Homo sapiens: one gene and its partner. The protein of the gene in region 1 interacts with the protein of each later gene in a pairwise test. Each region holds a gene or a part of one and is shown in the gene's direction. Other genes may lie near its edges. The genes, in order: CAMKK1 and GARRE1.

Region 1 (10,657 bases):
CCCCCACTGCGTCCCAGGCGCACACACTCTGGGGACCCTTCGCCTCTTCCTCGGTCTCCCACCGTCAGTCCTCACAGCAGCCATGGGAGTCGTTTTAAACCTCACCTAACCGAGGCACTCCCCTGCTCACAACCTCCCCCTGGCTTTGGGGGCCTCCTGGGCTCTGTCCACCAAGCTCTCCCCACCCCCAAACCAAGCCCGGAGTCCCAGCCAGGAAATGACTCTCCTATATGCACAGTGCAAACTTCCATCCTCGCCTCATCCTGAAATCCTGCTCAGTGCTCAGAAGAGAGCTCAGGTGCCACCTCCTCTAGGAAGCCATCCCTGAGGCCAGCACAATGAGTGAGGGGGCTTTCTCTCCAGATGTAACTCCTCTTGCTATCAGGTGCCTCTTATGTGGGGAAGACTCCACTCCAGCCACGTCAGCCTCCCTGCTGTTCTTCATACTGAGCAAGCACTGTCCCCTCATGGCGTTTGCACCTGCTGGTCCCTGCACCTGAAATGCTCTTCCCCAGATAACTACACTGCCTACTGCCCCTTCCTTCCTTCAGGTGTCTGCTCCAGTCCTGCTCCCAAAAGGCCTTCCTCAACTACACTGTATCAGCAGCATCTCCCAGCCCCTTTCTCTTGATCCTTCTTACTCGGCTGTATTTTTCTTCCTATATGTACCACTTGACATATCATATCTGAATCACTGGCTTTCTTGTTTGTTGCTTCTTGCCCCCACGAGAAATTAAACTGTATGAGAGCAGAGACTTGGTCTTTTTGGTTCACTGCTGTATCTCCCCACACAGGCTTGCACAGAGTCTGGCAGACAGCAGGTGCTCCGTGACTATTTGTGCTTGCATCCCAGGCGTCCATGTCCCTGGCTGCTCCCTAGCCTGTGACCCCCCCCCCAACCTTGCCCCCAGTCTGAGGCCACTTCTGCTCCTCTATCCATGACATTCCGAGTTCCTGGAAGGCCAGGTCTGGGAGAACTATAACCACATTTGCATGTTGGAAATCCCTCCAGCAGCTGGTGTGGAGGATGGGGTAGGGTGGGGTGGAGGTGTTAGCCTGGAGTCAGGGAAGACCCACATAGTGGGAAACGAAGCAGTGGGTAGAATCTGGACTTCTAAGGGGTTTGACTTGGTGAGCTCACCCAGCAGGTAGTGGGGAGATCAAGGAGGGCTCAGAAGAGGCGATGTCTGAGCTGTCCTCCAGGCAGCAGAGGAGAGGGAGGTGTGTTCCTGGCAGAAGGCACAGCTTGTACTGAGGCCTGGCAGCAGAACAGAGTATGCAATTTGGGAAGCTGTGGTGTGGCTGCAGTGGAGAGTAAGTGTGGGGTTGTGGGGAGCAAGGGTGGGCAACAGGGAAAGGACGAGTGACAAGGAGGGCTCCCGGATTGCTGACCTGGGTCAGGAAAGAATGGGGAGGGTGTGGTACCCGTCTCGCAATGGAGACAGAGGAGGACGAGCAGGTTTGGGGAAGATGCTGAGTTGAATCTGGGGCCTGTTGGATCTGAGCTGCTCGGGAACATGGACGGGGAGGTGGCAGCTAGCTGGAAAGAGTGGGGCTGGAGGCACAGACCTGGTGTGGAGGATGAGGAGGGGCAGAGGATGAGGCCTGGAGACCATCAGCCTCCGTGGGTGGGCCAGGACGATGCGCTGGGGGTAGCTGTGCTGAGTCAGGCAACAGCCCGTATTGGTGCTTGGGGGCTCCCCAGGGATGGTGGGAGCGGGCGTCCTCACAGCAGGAGTCGTCAAGCATGACTTGGCACCAGACGCCTGGGCCTCCCTCAAGGGGACTGAGTCATCCCGGGTGGGGGCGGGAGCTGCGGAGGGCACCCGTTGCCAGGGCCATCCAGATACTCGCCAGGATCATAAACACAGCTCCAGTGAGGCGGCCCAGGCATGGGAGGACCACCTTCTGTGTCTGGCCTGGGTGGCCGCCACCTCTGCGGCTTTCCCTTCTGTTCGGTCCTCTGCTGGTCACGGCTGTCCATCCCCTCGCCTGGATGTAGCTGGTCCCCTGCCTCGGCTTGGCACTGGGGTTCACAGCGGCCTTCCAGCGCTCAGAATGAGGCCTGACCAGGGCCTGACCAGCTCCCAGGTGGAGCTACTTGAACCCGCGTGGATGGCAGCAGGGTCTGCCTGCTCTGGGGCTCCTTTGAGGGATGCAGCTGGATGGGGCATGTCCTGTGGAAGAAGCCAGGCCAAGTGGGCGTCTGGAGCCGGGGGCCCACATTCCTTGGGAGTGGCCAGACGCTTGGGGGGTGGGGCACAGCCTGGGAGGAAAAACCTGGGTGGGGGATATGTGCCAGGCCATCTTGGAGCTGGGGGCAGAGGTGGGGTTGGACCTTGCACATCAAGGCTCTCTTGGACGCTTCTAGACACAGCCACATCCCAGCCCCACAGTGCTGTGGCACAAACTACTCCTGTGTCCACACCTCATTCTGTTCCTTCCATCGCCCTGGGAGTTGGCAGGACAGTGGCCTTCTGCTTGATGCACGTGTTAGGAAACAGAGGCTCCAAGAGGCTCGATGACTTGTCCGAGGCAGCAGATCCCCAGTCTGGGGGGACAGGATTGCAGTAGTTTTTCCCAATGAGGGAGGGCTTGAGTCTGGCTGTTCACGGCCGCAGGACTAAGCCAGTGCCCATGCCCACAGGAATCCTTCGCTGTACCATGGGCCTGGTTCCCGGCCTGTCTGTCCATCTTTCTGTTTGCCCACATGGCCCTAGTTATCCACCGAATTAAGTTTCTACAGAGTATCTACTAAGGCCTGAGCTTGGGAAGGGCCTTGAGACACCCCCTGTGTGAGCCTCCAGATGGGCCTGGGTTTCCGCCCGGGGCACAGAATCCAGCCCAGCAGGCAGTGCCAGGCTGGTGGGACCAGTGACTATGGGGAAAAGTCCAGATATGAGCTCTGGGATCAGGCTCCCAGGGCCCCCAGGGGCGCGGACCACCCCCCTACCCTGGGCATAGGTACACGGAGACCTGCAGGCACACAGGCGCATAAACACACCTGCGCACACACACATCACACCGAGGTTTTCATCTCCATGCAGTGCGCTCCTGTGTGGGGACCCACAACACACACACACACACACACACGCCACCACCCTGGTCCACAGCCTGCGCACACATATTCCCTCCTGTGGGGACACACGCCCTCACACACGCGGCCGGGGCGCCAGGCCCTGTCTCCCGGACACGCGGCAGGAACCTCGGGCCTCCCCGGCCGGCCGCCTCCCTCGCAGACGCGCTTAGTCACCTGAATTTGATCCAGGCGGGAGGGAGGGATGGGGAGCCTGACGTCAGCCCTCGCGGCCGCCTTCCGCCCGCCCGCGCATCCATCTGGGCCTCAGCGTGTCCCGAGCAATCACAACAGCAGCCGCACAACAACAACTCACTTTTACGGCCTCCTTAGTGGCAGGCACTGTTCTGAGCGCCTTACGGGCGTTCCCTCCTCAGCATCTCACCACGTGCGGTGAGGTGAGGCCCGCTAGAACCCCATCTTGCGGGCGAGGAAAACCCAAGGCACAGAGGCGAAGCCACCTGCTCACGGGCTCCCAGCCAGGAAAGGGTGCAGCCTGGCTGCCTGGCTTCAGAGCCTGGGCGCCAAACCGGGTAACAGGGCTCAGGCTGGAACAGGAAACCTTCTGCCCCGACTTGCTGGGTGACCCCGGGCCCATCCCCACCCGCTGGGCCTCCCTCTACCTATCTAAGAAAAGCAGGGAAAGGTGTTCAAGGGTAAAGGAGGATGGCCTCTTGCTGGAATGGCAACCTCAAGGAAATACGCAAATTTTATGGGCCCGGGCAGCCTGTGGCTTCTGCCTGTGGCGGCTCTGAGTCCCGTAGTCCCTGCCTAGGGCCAAAAAGCAGGAGCTCCTGACTCTGGAGTTCATTCTGTTATATGTGCTGGGGCCTGAGGCTTGCTGGGGTTGCCTCTCTGAGGCTGCTTTCTCATCTGTCTAATGGGGACAGGGCTGTAACGATCACTATGGCAACCACTCATTTATTCAACAAATATTTATCGAGTTCCTATCACATGCCAGGCACTGATGATCTTTTGGAGACAAGGCAGATGAGCGTCCTAATCTCATGAAACTTACATTCGGGAGGGAAAAACAAGGCATGCGGAGTGAGGGGAAGGGGCGGAGGGGTGGGCCACCTGCTGGGAGGAGCCTGGCGGGTCCTGGAGGGTGTTCCCAGCTTTGGCTTCCTCCTTCCTATGCTGTCTGGTTTCCAAGCTCTCCCCGAAGCTCCAGCCCCACTCACTGTCCCTCTCACCTCCTCCAGGGAGGCCTCCCTATGCCACAGCCTCTCACCTCCTCTGGGGAGGCCTCCTTATGCCACAGCCCCACTCTCTGTCCTCTCTCACCTCCTCCAGGGAGGCCTCCCTGTGCCACAGCCCCACTCCCTGTCCCCTCTCACCTCCTCCAGGGAGGCCTCCTTGTGCCACAGCCGCACTCACTGTCTCCTGCCCTCTCTTCCAGGGAGGCCTCCCTGATACTCTAGCCTCACTCAGCCTCCTCACCTCCTTCACCTCCTCCAGGGAGGCCTCCTTGATGTTCCAGCCTCATTAACTCCCTCTCACTCCTCTGGGTCCAGCTTCCATGACTTTTCCTGTTCCTAGTGTGGAGCCTCCTCTCTTCCTTTCTCCATGTCAGCACCAGCCCCACCGCCTCCAGGCTTCTACTCATTCAACACACTGCGTACCGGGCACAGGGGGTCTGGACCTCACCCTTACCCTCAGTCTACCTCCAAACCCTGCTGTGAGCCTGGAAAATATGGGAAGGCAGGGAATCCACAGGACAAGTCGGGAGACTGGGGCTCAGAGTCGGGAAGGAGCTGGTCTAGGGCCCCTGGTGGGTCAGCAGGCAGGACTGGAACCCAGTCCTGGCTCCTCAGTGGCCGGTGGACTCCAGCCAGCCCTGCCTCGCTGACATCTGTCAAAGCAAGGGGATGGGGAACGAGCGGTAGAGCAGGCGCTTCACCATGCGTACTCTGGGTCTCCCTGAGACCCATGTTCTCAGTTGCTGTGTGGGTTCGGAGGAAGTTACCAGCAGACAGGAAGGATGGAGGGTCAGGAGTTCACTCACTTCCTTCTCCTGAGAACATGCAGAGTCCAGCGCAAGCAGGGGGAAGGGCATCAGGTTGGGCATGGCCAGCGCTCTACAAGCCTGGGACAGAGATGGGGGTCTCAGGCTGAGTGTCAGGGTTCAGTCCGGGGTCAGGATGTAGCCCAGGGTCATGGCTGAAGGTGAGGGCTGGGGGTCACCTCCCTGATGTTTCAGCCGCCACACAGTGAGTTTGAGAACATGAGTCTCAGGGGATGTCATGCCCCTGTTTCACCCCTCATTCCCCTCATTCTCATCCCCTTGCTTTTTTTTGAAACCGAGTCTTGCTCCGTCACCCAGGCTGGAGTGTAGTGGCGTGATCTTGGCTCACTGCAACCTCCACCTCCCAAGTTCACACGATTCTCCTGCCTCAGCCTCCCGAGTAGATGGGATTTCAGGTGCACGCCACCATGCCTGGCTAATTTTTGTATTTTTAATAGAGACAGAGTTTTGCCATGTTAGCCAGGCTAGTCTCGAACTTCTGACCTCAGGTGATCCACCTGCCTCGGCCTCCCAAAGTGCTGGGATTACAAGTGTGAGCCACCATGTGGGGCCCATCCCCTTGTTTTGACAGACGTCAATGAGGCAGGGCTGGCTGGAGTCGGGAGCCCCAGGGAAGTCTTCCTGGAAGCAGTGAGAGGGATGGGGGTAGGAGGCTGAAACATCAAGGAGGGCTCCCTGGAGGAGGCGGGTGGGTCTGAAGCATCAGCAAGGCTTCTGAGTTACTAGTGTCTAGCTCAGCTTCCAGGAGGCAGTGTCGGAGTGCTCTGCTGTCAAGGGTTGGGACTCATGACTCACAGGGCTGCATGCTGTGCTGGGGCTGAGCTGACCCTGGGCTCTGCCCCTTCCAGTGCTGCTGGGCCTCCAGGCTTCTGCCCTGTCTGTCCTGATTCCAGAATATCAGATTCTCTCTGCTTCCCTGTGAAGCCAGCAGGCAGAAGTGACTGCCTCTGTTACCGGCAGGGATACTGAGGCCTAGAGGGCTGGCATGCGGCAGAACCGATGTGAATTCATTCAGGTCATAGGGACAGACTTGAGTTTGGGTGTTGGCAATCCCGGTAGAGGGAACAGCCAGGGCAAAGGCATGGAGGTGGGACCCACAGCGCTGTGGCTACCTTACCTGGTAGCCAGCCTGACACCCAGGAGTGAAGCCTTCTCTGCCTTCTTTTCTCAGGTTCCCAACAAGGCTACGCAGAAGAACCCCCTTGACTGAAGCAATGGAGGGGGGTCCAGCTGTCTGCTGCCAGGATCCTCGGGCAGAGCTGGTAGAACGGGTGGCAGCCATCGATGTGACTCACTTGGAGGAGGCAGATGGTGGCCCAGAGCCTACTAGAAACGGTGTGGACCCCCCACCACGGGCCAGAGCTGCCTCTGTGATCCCTGGCAGTACTTCAAGACTGCTCCCAGCCCGGCCTAGCCTCTCAGCCAGGAAGCTTTCCCTACAGGAGCGGCCAGCAGGAAGCTATCTGGAGGCGCAGGCTGGGCCTTATGCCACGGGGCCTGCCAGCCACATCTCCCCCCGGGCCTGGCGGAGGCCCACCATCGAGTCCCACCACGTGGCCATCTCAGATGCAGAGGTTGGTGGGGCAGAACGAGGGGTTGTTCATGAGCCCCTCAGTAGTCTGCAATGAAGACTCTTTCCTGCCCCTGTCTGTGCCACACGGCTATCTAGCTTTGGTTTGCATACCCTCAGAGCTGGGGAGATCACTACCTAACAATATAGCTTCTTCCCAACCAGGGGAGCTCCAGCTGAGCCAAAGGCTGCCTTCCCTAAGTCCTGCTATTCCCACTCCCAGCCCAGGCCTAGGAAATAGGTCTCTCCCTGGTCCCCTATGTAGTCTTCTTAGAGATGTGAAGATAGATGCTATGTCCCCCTTCCCCCCTAACTCTTCTCCAGCTTGCACCCCTCGCCTCTAATTCTGCCTCTTAGAGTCTGCTGTGACTCAGAAGCGGCCGGCCTGCCTCCAGCCTCTGGGCTTCTGCTGGAGTTCTTGCCATTTAGGTCTGAAAGTGAACTCAGGTTCCAAGCAGTCTACAGATGTCAGGGGCTGAGCTTTCTGTGCCTGAACCCAGGCTCTCAGCCTCTGTGCCCAGGGCTCCTCATCTTGTCCTTGGAGTCTAGACCTTCTCATTCAGCTGCTTCTGGAAATAGTTGCTCATGGGTTTCTCATGGATTAGGGTCTTCCAGACTCCAGAATCCAGACAGGAATTAGCGTTTTCCCTTCACCACTGCTTCTGGGGAACAAGGCACAGCCATGGCGTCACCATCCATGTTTTCAAACATGAGCCACGTCTTCTCGTCACATACGGGGGCGATGGCACCACCAACTTCCCCATCCAAACTCAAAAGCTTGGTGAGACCTGGGGGTCCGGGAATGAGGAGCTTATGGCCAGAATTGGACCCTGAACGGGCTCTGAGGTAGGAGCAGTGCTGCCTCCGGACCCAGCTCCACCTGGTGCTCGCTCTTCCCCCACAGGACTGCGTGCAGCTGAACCAGTACAAGCTGCAGAGTGAGATTGGCAAGGTAGGAGTGGGCAGGCCGAGAGCAGTGGGGGCTTCGGGATTCTCTGTTTGGCGCTGCTCCTTCTCTCGTGTGGGAGGGAACGGGAGGCAGAGCCAGGCAAGTCCTAGCCTGGAGGTGAGGACAGTTTCGTGCCCTGTGGGAAGTACCCAGGTACCCAGGGGGAGGGTGGAAGATGGCTCCTGATTCCCGACTCTCTGAGTTCTTGACAGTGGACAAGGAGGGACTGAGGGAGGCATGGAGCCATGTGGAGCCAAGCAGGGGCAGTTACCAGGGCGCAGGAGTCCCCTCCCCATCTGCTACAATATTTGCCCGTGAGCCAGCTGGTGGTGGGTAGTGCAGATGGGGTGCAGGAGAGACCAGAGCTGCTCGGCTCCCCACCTCCTGAGCTGGTCCTGGGAGGGGTTGCCCTGTCCAGGTGGGGCTGACTGATGCCTATCTGCAGGGTGCCTACGGTGTGGTGAGGCTGGCCTACAACGAAAGTGAAGACAGACACTATGTGAGTCTGGGGATACGAGGGAGGTGTTGCCCAAGCCAGGCCCTGGAAGCCTGAGGGGTGGGGCAGGAGTTGTGCTTAGGAGATAGAGGACAGGGCTGCCTGAGAGTGAGCTCCCTGTCCCTAGGGGTATGCAAAGGAATGAGCTTCCTAACCCTGGGGATATGCAAGCAGAGACTGGATTCCTCTGAGGGGAAAGCTCCAGAAAGGCTTGCTGGGGGAATAAGGGGAAGGGCTAGGCTCAGATATGGCCACCCCCAACCCCGCTTAACACTTACCTGGGCCACACCCTCAGGGCCAGTAGCAGATGTCCAGTGTGCCTCTCCGGACCTCAGTCCACATGTACCAGCCTGTTCTAGCCCCTGGTGGCTGCACAGTAGTGACATTTCTGTCCCTCCTTCCTTAGGCAATGAAAGTCCTTTCCAAAAAGAAGTTACTGAAGCAGTATGGCTTTCCACGTATGTATCTTCTGATCCTGTCCCTGGGAGCTCCTAGCCTGGAGGCAGAGGAGGAGACCTCGATCCTGAGCTAGTTTTGGCTAGGAATGGGGTAGAGAGGGAGACAGCGTGAGCAGAGGCCTGGGGACAGAATGTGCCCTGTGGGTTGGGACAAGACCACGGGCATGCAAGACTCTTGCTTGAGACTGGTTTGGGGGCCACGGTGAGGCCCAGCCACCTGGAACAGGTGTTTGAGTTCTCTTCCTGGTCACAGGTCGCCCTCCCCCGAGAGGGTCCCAGGCTGCCCAGGGAGGACCAGCCAAGCAGCTGCTGCCCCTGGAGCGGGTGTACCAGGAGATTGCCATCCTGAAGAAGCTGGACCACGTGAATGTGGTCAAACTGATCGAGGTAGGGGGTGGTGGTGAGCAGGTGGGAACCAGCACCTGAGTCTCATGGGAGCCGCTTCTGGTGCTGGGGAGCCCCTAGCACAGACCCAGGGATCTTGCCCAGGTGGCAGATGTGGCTGAGGCCTCTGAGGACAGGGCCAGACTTGGGGTGGGGCTGCAGGAAGGCTTTGGGGGCCCAGCCTGGTCAGGGATGTTCCCAAGTTCCCATGGAGGGTGAGGGGCTGCCCCAGAGGCAAGAAGTGAGCCCCTCATTGCAGCTGGAGGGGAGGAAGGCTGGATGTCGTGTGGCGGGCCAGGTTGGGGGTCGGTGACTTCTGAGGCCCCATCAGTCTGGCACCACCTGTACACTTCCTGCTTCCTTGTCTGGGGTGGTTGCATGCATACTAAGGGTTCTGGGGCTGGCAAGGACCAGGAGGCCTGGGACCTCCAACCCCACGCCTCCTCAAGCCCCACCCCCATGTCTGCTCCCTCTGACCAGGTCCTGGATGACCCAGCTGAGGACAACCTCTATTTGGGTGAGTGACCTGGCTCATTCCCACAGCAGCTCACTCAGGGCTGGCCCAAGGGCTCCCTTGGGACATGTATGACCTTCAGGTGGGCGGTGTAAATGCACTGACCTCCTGGGGACAGAAGAAAAACACACGTTCTGAAGCCCTGGATTCCCTTGCCCAGCCCTGCAGAACCAGGCCCAGAATATCCAGTTAGATTCAACAAATATCGCCAAGCCCCACTCCCTGCTTCCCTCTGAGCAGCAAGACAGTGGATCCACGTGGGCTGCGCGCTCAGGTAGATGCAGGAAGCAGGCTGCATGGGTTCCCAGACACTGTAGCTCTGTGCCTCAGTTTTCCCACCTATAAAACAGGGATACTAGTGGTGTCTACCTCATAGGGTTCCTGTGAAGAGTAAATGAGTAATTATATGTAAAGCACATTCGTTATTATCCTTGTTAATAGTAATGTTATTATTTTAGTTCCTTGTGTCTGGTTCAGGGCTGGGCTTAGAGGAGGCCTCAGAAAATGGGGCAGAAGAAGAACTGGCTTAGGAATTAGAGGCTGAGGCTTTAGTCTCCACTCCCTACCCTACCTGCCTGTCTGCTATGACCTTTAGGAAAATTTCTGCCCCTTCTCTGTGCCTCAGTTTCCCCCTCTGTAAAAGGGCCCCATGCTGATGCTGATGGTTCTCACCTGGCACCTGAGGATCAGATGAGACAGGTCCATAGCAGACCCCACTCTCATGCATTTATTTGCTCTCATATCCCAGGGTCCCCTGTCCTGTCCCTGCCTCGAGTATGCCTGCATGCCTGCCCCCTCTCCTACCCTCCAGAACAGGGAGGGACCTTGGCATCGGCTGCTTTGCCAGCCAGCTACACCTTACCTTCTTGTCTTTTCTTTCAGTGTTTGACCTCCTGAGAAAGGGGTGAGTTCCCCGTCCTGATCAGGCAGGTCAATTCTCATCCAGGCCTTCCTTCCTTTCCCTCCCTGTGTCCCCAGCCCAGGGGTCAGCTACTCTAGGAGAAGTCAGAGACGGAGGCCCTGCCCTTAGGGGTAAATAAGAGACCAAGAGGACCATTCTTTGAAGGCTGATGGGGGTCAGTGAGGCTGAAATAGTCAGGGAGACCTCTGGAAAAGGGGACGGATTTTGACCCAGGCCTTGAAGAACTAGGAAGATAGGGATGGAGGAGAGGGGGAAGAAA
Region 2 (10,657 bases), on another chromosome or scaffold:
AATACCTTGTTCTGGTCCCTCATCCCCATTATAAAAGCAGTTAATTCTCCTTTCCTGGCAAAACACTCAAGACGACACAAAAAGTCTTAAGGTAGAAAATGACAGTCATCTGCCAGTCTACCATTCAGTGACAACCACTGCTAACATTTTGGTGATAATCAATAAATACAGATAGGTATTGTTATTTTTATGGACTTTACAGTATGTGATTTAACCACCGATGAGCATTGAGATAGTTTCCAATTTGTCACAAGATAAACAATTCTGCCGGAAGGATTTGTTTGATATGGTCTTTTTTTTTTTTTTTTAATAAGAGACTGTTGCCCAGGCTGGTCTCAAAACTTCTGGCCTCAAGCGACCCTCACGCCTTCGCCTTCCAAAGTGTTGGGATTACAAGTGTGAGATATTACACCTGGTCTGATTGTTATCTTAGAATAAATTTACAAATGGGGTCAAAGGTAACTTTATTTGTTTTTTTTTGAGACAGTCTCCCTCTGTCACCCAGGCTGGAGTGCAGTGGCGGGATCTAGATTAACTGCAACCTTAGCCTCCCGGGTTCGAGCGATTCTCCTGCTTTAGTCTCCCGAGTAGCTGAGATTACAGGCACCCACCACGCCCGGCTAATTTTTGTATTTTTAGTAGAGACAGGGTTTCGCCCAGTTGACCAGGTTGGTCTCGAACTCCTGACCTCAGGTGATCCGCCTGGCTCGGCGTTCCAAAGTGCTGGGATTATAGGCGTGAGCCACCGTGTCCGGCCGTAACGTTCAATTTTTAAGAATACATAGTATTTGTTTTCCTTTGACATATTTGGACAATTTTTCTGTCTCTTTGTCATAAAAAAAAATTCCAGCCTGGCGCGATGGCTCATGCCTGTAATCCCAGCACTTTGGGAGGCCGAGGCGGGCGGATCACTTGAGGTCAGGAGTTCTAGACCAGCCTGGCCAACGTGGTGAAACCCGGATTCAACTAAAAAAATACAAAAAAACACATTAGCCAAGCATGGTGGCGCGCTCCTGTAGTCCCAGCTACTTGGGAGGCTGAGGCAGGAGAATCGCTTGAGCCCAGGAGGCGAAGGTTGCAGTGAGCCGAGGTCGTGCCACTGCGCTCCAGCCTGGGCAACAGAGTGAGACTCCATCTCAAAAAAAAAAAAAAAGAAATTCATGTTTGCGTCTCATCGTTTCATGGTTTTATTTTTTTGCCTTTAGTCTACCTAAAATTCATTCTTGGTTTAAAATATGAAATATTTTGTAAATGGCTAGTCAGTTCCAGATTTATTGAATAATATGTAAGCTTTATCATTTTATCATATTTTAGACTAAAAGTTCTAAGTGTATGTTTGTAAGGGCTACTTACAAAGTTCATATTTACATTTTGTGTGTGCTTAGATGTTTTCAAGTGTCTTTAAAAATCACAGTATTTTCTTTTCACAGTATCTTCACAATATTTTGTTTTAAAAAGAAATCATTTTCCAATACAAGTACAGGGAATATTTCATGTTTGAGATTTTTTTTTTCTTTTTAAAGCAAAAAGTTTAGTTTATTGCCGTTTCATTTGCTTTCTTGCTGACAAGATAACAAACTCCATATGAAGAGTTCAGGTTTGTTGTGGCAACTTTTCAGTGTGGCATTTGAGATTCTAATCTTCCTCTATTTTTGCACACAAATACGTAGGTTGGCATTGGAGACCAAGATAGAAAAGTTCTCAGATTCCCTTGGCAAGCCTAGATTTTTCAATCTAAAATTATCTCCAGATGTTTGGAAGACCATGTTTTAAGCATCCTTTTTTTTTTTTTTAAGCAAATTGCACATGATTCTGTGAAAATTTTAGTAAATGTTTGTTCTGTTGAAAACCTATAGCCTAATACATCAGGATCCATGTGTCAAGTGGGTCTTCCAAGTCTATAGGAAATAATTGTTTCTGAAAGCTAGCAGGCTGGGATATCACATGGGTTGGGTGTCCACTCTCTTTTTTTTTGAGTCGGAGTCTCCCTCTGTCCCCGAGGCTGGAGTGCAGTGGCGCAATCTTGGCTTACTGCAACCTCCACCTCCCAGGTTCAAGCAATTCTTCTGCCTCAGCCTCCCTAGGAGCTGGGATCACAGTTGTGAGCCACCACCCCTGGCTAATCACTCTTTTTTCCTCCTGTAACTTTGTCCTTAGTGAAAAATGATGATCTTCCTAGGTAGGCAAAAAAATGTTGGTTTAGATAAGGAATTGATTTGTTTTGGAGTTATTGAAAAGCAGGTTGCCGTTTTCTCTGAAGTGTAAGTTCACAGAGAGCCTGAATGTTGTGTTTGGATTAAGGAAAAACAGCAACAGGTTGTGCTTGTGCTTCAAATGTCTTTAACTCTACTGAAACTGCCCTCTTGAGGGTCCCCTAACTGATGCATGCAGTGGCCATTGCTTAATTATTTTCCTTGACTTTGATCTCAGGTATTTGGCATGGTGAGCTATTCTTTCTTGCTCTCGTGAATCTCCCATTGATTGGCCTTCTTTTTTCTTTTTCTTTTTTTTCTTTTTTTTTTTTTTGAGACAGAGTCTTGCTCTGTTGCCCAGACTGGAGTGCAGTGGCTCGGTCTCAGCTCACTGCAACCTCTGGCTCCAGGGTTCAAACGAGTCTCCTGCCTCAGCCTCCCGAGTAGCTGGGATTACAGGTCTGCGCCACCACCCCCAGCAAATTTTTGTATTTTTAATAGAGATGGGGTTTCACCATGTTGGCCAGGCTGGTCTTGAACTCCTGACCTCAAAAGTGCTGGGATTACAGGCGTGAGACACCACGCTTGGCCTTGATTGGCCTTCTTGACTTGGAACTAGTGTGGTCATTTCCTGAAATCTGTGACTGCACTTTCTCATTTGTCTTTACTGCTTCTCTTCATACATCTACCTTGGGGCATTTTCTGAAGCCTAGTTTTGTACCTCTTACCCCCGCTCCAAAACATATTCCTTCCCACTTATCCAGTATATGAGTCCTGGGTAGAGAACCACCTCATTTCCTTACCTCTGCCACCACTTAGTGACCCCCGACTCAGAGTTTTCTGCAGGTCAATTCTTTTTCTCCTGTTCAGTAACCCCTGGACATGTTCCTGAGGCCATGCTTTCTCCAGGTGAAGAAAATATCACTTCTGGCCGGGCGCAGTGGCTCACGCCTGTAATCCCAGCACTTTGGGAGGCCGAGGTGAGCGGATCACGAGGTCAGGAGACCGAGACCATCTTGGCTAACATGGTGAAACCCCATCTCTACTAAAAAAAAAATATTAAAAAATTAGCCGGACATGGCGATGGGCGCCTGTAGTCCCAGCTACTCAGGAGGCTGAGGTAGGAGAATGGTGTGAACCTGGGAGGCGGAGCTTGCAGTGAGCTGAGATCGTGCCACTGCACTCCAGCCTGGGCGACAGAGTAAGACTCCGTCTCAAAAAAAAAAAGAAAAGAAAATATCACTTCTTTGCGAGGACAAGGTGAGAGGATTACATGCTCTCAGGAGTTGGAGACCAGCCTGGGCAACATAGTGAGACCTCTGTCTCTTAAAAAAATGAATTTTAGGTCTGGCACAGGGGCTCATGCCTGTGATCCCAGAAGTTTGGGAGGCCAAGGTGGGAGGATTGCTTGAGATCAGCCTAGGCAACATAGTGAGACTCCAAAATTATCTAGGTGTGGTGGTCCATGCCTATAATTCCAGCTACTTGGGAGGCTGAGGCCGGAGGATTGCTTGAGCCTAGGAGGTTAAGGATTCAGTGAACTGTGATTGTGCCACTGCACTCCAGCCCAAGCAACAGAGCGAGACCCTGTCTCAAAATAAATAAGTAAATAAATAAATAAATAAATATCACTTATCAAGGTGTCCTGTCCTTCCTGACTCTTAAGGTTCTTACCAGCCGGTGAATCACATCTTCCTTCTTGATATGGATTGTATTTGCCATTTGCTTTCTATCCCTACACCTCGATTTAGACTTTGTACCTTTTCTTAAGGGATTTCAGGCTTAACGTGGTCCTACTCTGGATGTGAAAGAGGAGACCCAGTGAATTTACTCAAGAATTGAGTTAGCTCACATTTATGGAGTACCTACAGTACAGCCCAGTTACTTTACTGGAAGATCAGAATACAGAGCTGGACAGCACATCCTGGGAAGAATGCCAAATAAGCAATTGTCATAAAGTATTATAAGTGCCTAGAAGGGGAGTCACCAAGTAACCTCTCCCAGGTTTCAGAGATCTTGCGTGTCTTATTTACTGCTTTGATCTCCAGGGCCTAGAACACAGTGCGTGGAAATGATGAAGTTTTTTTTGTTTGTTTGTTTGTTTGTTTTGTATTTCATTCAGTTTAATGAGGGGACATGAGGAGCCAGGGGCAGAATGATATGGTTAGGCTGTGTCCTCACCCAAATCTCATCTTGAATTGTAGTTCCCATAATCCCCACATGTGGTGGGAAGGACCTAATGGGAGGTAATTTAATCATATGAGCAGTTTCCCCCATGCTATGCTTGTGATAGTGAGCAACTTCTCACAAGATCTGATGGCTTTATAAGGGGCTTCCCCCTTCACTTGGGTCTCATTCTTCTTGCTGCTGCCATGTGAAGAAGGACGTGTTTGCTTCCCCTTCTGCCATGAATATGTTTTCTGAGGCCTCCCAGCCCTGGGGAACTGTGAATCAATTAAGCCTCTTTCCTTTATAAATTACCTAGTCTTGGGCATTTCCCCATAGCAGGGTGAGAACAGACTAATAAACCTTATTTTAAGAAATTGCCACAGCCACCCCAACCTTTAGCACCCACACTCTGATCAATTAGCAGCCATCAACATCACGGCAAGACCCTCTGCCAACAAAAAGTTTACCACTTGCTGAAGATGCAGATGATCATTAGCATTTTTTAGTAATGAAGTATTTTTAAATTAAGGTATGTGCATTGTTTTTGTGACAATGCGATTGCATACTTAACAGACTACAATATAGTGTAAATATAACTTTTATATGTACAGGAAAATAAAAAACATCATGTGACTTGCTTCATTGCGATATTCACTTTCTTGAAATGATCTGGAATGACACCTGCAATATCTCCAAGATAAGCCTATAATATCTTTTCCTGATAATTTTGGCTATATACTTCTTGATCACCTTTTCTATGACAAGGATTTGGTAATATCATTTTTTTATTTTTATTTTATTATTATACTTTAAGTTTTAGGGTACATGTGCACAATGTGCAGGTTAGTTACATATGTATACATGTGCCATGCTGGTGTGCTGCACCCACTAACTCGTCGTTTAGCATTAATGAAGTATTTGTTGAAGGAATGAATGATCATCTGAGAATGAAATCAGAAAAAATGTCATACACATTAGCTATCTATAGAAAAGATATAAGTCAAAAGATATTTCGTAAATGTAGTTTGAAGAATCTCAGGGAAAACTTTAAATTCAACCAAACTGACCCAGCTATAACCCCAGGAAGGCATGCATGGAATGTGTTTGTAGCTGGAAAGCTTAAACTTAATTTTGTATCCTCAGAAGAAATACTTGTGTTTCTGGGAGAGGATTGGGACAGTGTCTGGAAATTGGGGTGGCGGGTCCAAGAGAGGAATTACGTGGTGTGTGTGTAGCACTCTCTGGGGGCCTGACCAGAGGAGCAGTGCAGCGTTCCCTCCACAAAGCCATCTGCACTAACACACAGATGGGCGTGTCCCTGTTGTTGCCTCTGGCTGCAAGGGTCTCTCCCTTGCTTAGCGTCTGTCCTCCCAGTACCATCTGAGTAGAAGATAGCTGCACGTGGAGATTTCTTGGTAAGGAGAGAATGTGAGTGGTTGAGGGCTCTGCATCTAAGCTGCTTGGATCAGATCCTGGTCTTGGGATGCTGGCTAATCTTTCAGTTTTCTGATTTGTAGAATGGGGATAATAGTAGCACCTTTCTCTTAGTGTTGCAGTGAGGGCTCTGAGCGTGCTACCCGGCACCTGTGATAAGTATTCAATGACAGTATTAGCTCTCGTTGGTATTCATAAAGTAGTAACTGGCCTCTGGTTCATACATCAGTTTTCTTTGAGCTTAGATAGCCTAAATAATTAATCCCCATGGAACTGCTTGCTTCTGGGTGCATTGAATAAGCTGATAAACAGACACTGGGAAGTAATGACAGATAAGCTCTTCCTACACTGCTCATCCAGGGAATCCAGCCTGCAGTTCTCAGGGGAGACTTCTGGAGAAGGCTGTTCTTGAGCTGAGTACTGTGGGAAAAAGTAAGTCCAGTGCCACAGCAAGAGGGGAGGACTCTTGGGCAGGGGCATGACACGTCCAAAGGTGTGGAGGTGAGAGCAAGCATGAGGTATTTGAGCTGCAGGAGATTGAGGGTAGAGTCTGGACAGGTATGAATAAGGAGTAGAGGGAAATGACATTGGAAAGTGGGAGCAGTCCTTGAAATAACTAATAACAATGTCTAACTGGGCACTAACAGCACTTCAGGTCCTGTGCTGAGTCCTTCGACTCACTGCGCTAACCAGGTTTGATGCTGAGAGCTTTGTCTACATTGCATTGTTTAATCCTCACAACAACCCTTTGATGTAGGTACTTACCTCTGGTATGTGTGGCATCATGTCACATGTCACCTGGTAGGTCTCCCTGCCTTTTTTTTTGAAATGGAATCTTGCTCTGTCACCCTGGCTGGAAGGCAGTGGCAGGATCTCGACTTACTGCAACCTCTGCCTCCCTGGGTTCAAGCGATTCTTCTGCCTCAGCCTCCCGAGTAGCTAGGACTACAGGTGAGTGCCACCATGCCTGGCTAATTTTTGTATTTGTAATAGAGGCGGGGTTTCACCATATTGGCCAGGCTGGTCTTGAACTCCTTACCTTGTGATCCGCCCACCTTGGTCTCCCAAAGTGCTGGGATTACAGGAGTGAGCCACCATGCCCAGCTGCTGCTTTTTTTTTTTTTTTTTTTTTTTTTTTTGAGGCGGAGTCTCTCTCTCACCCAGGCTGGAATGCAGTAGTGCGATCTCAGCTCATTGCAACCTCCACCTCCTGGGTCGAAGCAATTCTCCTGCCTTGGCCTCCCAAGTAGCTGGGATTACAGGCATGCGTCACCACGCCCAGCTAATTTTTGTATTTTTAGTAGAGATGGGGTTTCACCATATTGGCTAGGCTGGTCTGGAACTCCTGACCTCAGGTGATCCGCCTGCCTTGGCCTCCCAAGGTGCTGGGATTGTAGGCGTGAGTCACCTCGCCTGGCCTCTGCTTCTTGATTCAGCCTGCACATGGCTGCCAAGATAACTCCCAGTGTCTTATATATGTTTAAAAGCTTTTTGTGATCCTGTTTCCTGATGAAGTCCAAGCACACTAAGATCCTCTGACTTCATGAAAAACCACGAAGTTAAAATGTAAAAATATTTATATCTTAGAATTTAATAAAAACAGGACAGGTGCAGATGTGGATCAAGCTCAGAGAAATCAGTGAAAGAAGCAAGGTACAGAACAATGTATGTTTGCCCATTTGTGTTTTTCTAATTTTAAAAAATTTCTCCACTTTTGAAGTAATATGAGCTCATTTGTTTAAAAAAATATATATAGGCCAGGCATGGTGGCTCACGCCTGTAATCCCAGCACTTTGAGAGGCTGAGGCGGGCGGATCACCTGAGGTCCAGAGTTTGAGACCAGCCTGACAACATGGTGAAACCCCACCTCTACTAAAAATACAAAAATTAACTGGGCATGGTGGCGGGTGCCTGTAATCCCAGCTGTCCAGGAGGCTGCAGCAGGAGAATTGCTTGAACCTGGGAGGTGGAGGTTGCAGTGAGCCAAGATCGTGCCACTGCACTCCAGCCTGGGTGACAGAGCAAGATTCCATCTCAAAAAATAAATAAATAAAAATAAAATAAATAATGTCTCCCTCTCTCGATAGAGAGATAGATAGATAGATAGATAGATAGATAGATAGATATACATGAAATAGGTTTATAAGTGCAGAAATAATTTATGGAATGATAGAAAAGAAACAGTGGTTGTTTTTGGGATGAGACCCCAGAAAACCAGGCTGTTAGGCTGAGTTAGCTTTTTCTTTGCATACCATTTTGTATGGTGTGAATTTTTTTCCCTGTGTATATGTATTTTCTTTTTTTTCTTTTTTTTTTTTTGAGACAGAGTCTTGCTCTGTTGCCTAGGCTGGAGTGAAGTGGTGCAATCTTGGCTCACTGCAACCTCCGCCTCCTGGGTTCAAGCGATTCTCCTGCCTCAGCCTCCTGAGTAGCTGGGATTACAGGTGCCCGCCACTACGTCTGGCTAATTTTTGTATTTTTAATAGAGACAGGGTTTCACCATGTTGGCCATGTTGGCCAGGTTGGTCTCGAACTCCTGACCTCAAGTGATCCATCCACCTCGGCCTCCCAAAGTGCTGGGATTACAGGCGCGAGTCACCGCACCCGGTCTATGTTTTCATTTTAACAATAACTTTTAAAATAAATGTCTATGATGGACATGGCTGTTGTGTAGAGTGAATGTAGCATGGAGGTTAAGAGTGAGGACTGTGCAAGGCGGCTTGGGTTCAAGGCCTGCCCCTGCCTTGACCTCAGTTTACCTCCTCTGAAAATGGGGAGGTAGTAATACCTGCCTCCTGGGGTTGTAGTGAGGCATTACTGAGTTAATATTTGTAAAGTCCTTGGAACAGTTCCCAGGAGGTATGTGTTTGTCGTCGTCTCTGTTGCTCTGTCCCTGTGCTATGCATGACCGTAAGTGTAAAGATGTGTCCAGCCTCTGTCTCTGATGCTCCCAGTTCATTTGGAAAGGGAGAGCATGCAGCTAATGACAGAGACAGCAGAGGCTGCAGGAGTCAGAAAGGCTCCTTGGGAACTGAGGTGGCCCAAGATGGTTTCATCAAAATGATGGTTGTTAAATATGGGTAATTTCTAGAGGGAAAATAACACAAAGGGACTTTTTCCATGTTGTGTGTCCCAGCCAGCCTGAGGCAGGCAGAGGAGTCAGAAACAGGACAAGAGCTTTGAGGAGGCCTGAAATTTGGACGTGTCATGTGATGACATGTCTTTTTTTTTTTGGAGGGGGGGACGGAGTCTTGCTCTGTTGCCCAGGCTAGAATGCAGTGGCATGATCTCAGCTCACTGCAAGCTCTGCCTCCCCGGTTCACGCCATTCTCCTGCCTCAGCCTCCTGAGTAGCTGGGACTACAGGTGCCCGCCACCATGCCTGGCTAATTTTTTGTATTTTTAGTAGAGACGGGGTTTCACTGTGTTAGCCAGGATGGTCTTGATCTCCTGACCTTGTGATCCGCCCACCTCGGCCTCCCAAAGTGCTGGGATTATAGGTGTGAGCCACCACGCCCGGCTGGCATGTCATTGTTATATGGCAGAGTTTTTCTTGGCATATATGAGACAATGATATGATTTGTAAATGGTGACATCTTTGACTCAGTGAAGTGTGGTTGCTCTGCCTTGATGTTTGGAATGGCTATGAGGTGTTCTGTGTGACGTATTTAACAATCCTCGTAATGCAGGGCACGTGGGAATAACCAGTGTTGCCAGTGAGTGTTCTTGACGCAGGCCTCTACATTAACCGTGAGTCTGTTCTAGGATTCGTGCCTAGATAGAATATTGCTTTTCTTTCTTTTTTTTAAGTCATTTTGATTATGTTCCTTGTGTCTGGGCCACTGTCAGTTAAGTGTGTTTTCAAATTGGCAGTGGCAAAGAATCATAATGGGAAGATTTTTGAAAGTGGAATTAGAGCAAGATATTACCTGAAAAAAAATCTGATTTTCTTACTAAAAATGATTTTGGGATTAAGTACTAGTGAGATGCTAATTATGGCCAGGAAACCTGGAAATAACTCGCATCTTCCCTCACCCCACCCCCGGTCCCCGAGGTGGATATATGTTCATGGGAACAGAGTTTGGGGAAAGCTGGCTTGGCTCCCAGACTTGGGTGCCGCAGGCTCTGGTGACCTAGGCAGGAAGAGGCGGAAGTGGTTCCTCTCACCAGCCACAAGGACCTGTGCTGCTCCTGGGTGTCAAGGTGGGAGAGAATGCGCTACATCCTTGTGCTTGAGTCACTTTGTAATGTACTTTGTAATTCCAGGTGATGCCCCTCCTCAACTGTGTCCCTTCTGTTCCTGCCTTTGGCTTGGGGTTGAAAGAGGAGGGAGTGGTGGGCACGGAAATGGGAGGAGCCATGACCTCTTTCCCCTCCAGCGCATAGGGCATTACTTCTTTTAGTTTGTTGCCTGGACTTGGGAGTTGGGCCCAGAGCTGCAGGAAGGTAAGTTTTATTTCTGAAAGTTGTTTTAACTTACAGATTTTGGGGGTTCGAGGGAGTTTGTTTTCGACTAGTAGAAGACAAGAATTAAGAATTGCAGTGGAAGATGAAATGCTATCTTCTTACTAATCCACGCCCTCTTTCAGAGCAGTAGCTTTCATTTACGGAGACTGAGGGTATGGCAGAGGCTGTGCTTTATGGATTTAATCCTCAGCAGTACTGAGGCACAAGAGTTAGGCGACTTGCTCAAAGTTAGTAAGTGCCATTTATTCAGCTGATATTTACTAAGAGCAGGAATTCACATCTAGATCAGTCTGATTCCCATACCCGTACCAGTAACTACTGCATTTTGGAAGTGCGTCGTTTCCATGAAGTTTCTTTGTATTGGAGCATCTACCTGAAAGGCAAGGGCCTGAGCAT

Evidence for each region.
Region 2: the proteins of CAMKK1 (region 1) and GARRE1 interact in binary tests that used the Homo sapiens proteins (3 or more experiments, as listed by UniProt).

The regions. Positions count from the first base shown.
Region 1 is NC_000017.11:3,881,350-3,892,006, reverse strand, and holds part of CAMKK1 (calcium/calmodulin-dependent protein kinase kinase 1), read left to right. Parts: intron 1-1,263; exon of another isoform or gene 1,264-1,276; coding exon of another isoform or gene 1,277-1,314; intron 1,315-6,276; coding exon of another isoform or gene 6,277-6,319; coding exon 6,320-6,679; intron 6,680-7,579; coding exon 7,580-7,627; intron 7,628-8,069; coding exon 8,070-8,123; intron 8,124-8,526; coding exon 8,527-8,578; intron 8,579-8,831; coding exon 8,832-8,965; intron 8,966-9,442; coding exon 9,443-9,479; intron 9,480-9,636; coding exon of another isoform or gene 9,637-9,750; intron 9,751-10,358; coding exon 10,359-10,380; intron 10,381-10,657. UniProt on the Homo sapiens protein: Calcium/calmodulin-dependent protein kinase that belongs to a proposed calcium-triggered signaling cascade involved in a number of cellular processes. Phosphorylates CAMK1, CAMK1D, CAMK1G and CAMK4. Involved in regulating cell apoptosis.
Region 2 is NC_000019.10:34,255,382-34,266,038, forward strand, and holds part of GARRE1 (granule associated Rac and RHOG effector protein 1), read left to right. Parts: intron 1-10,657. UniProt on the Homo sapiens protein: Acts as an effector of RAC1.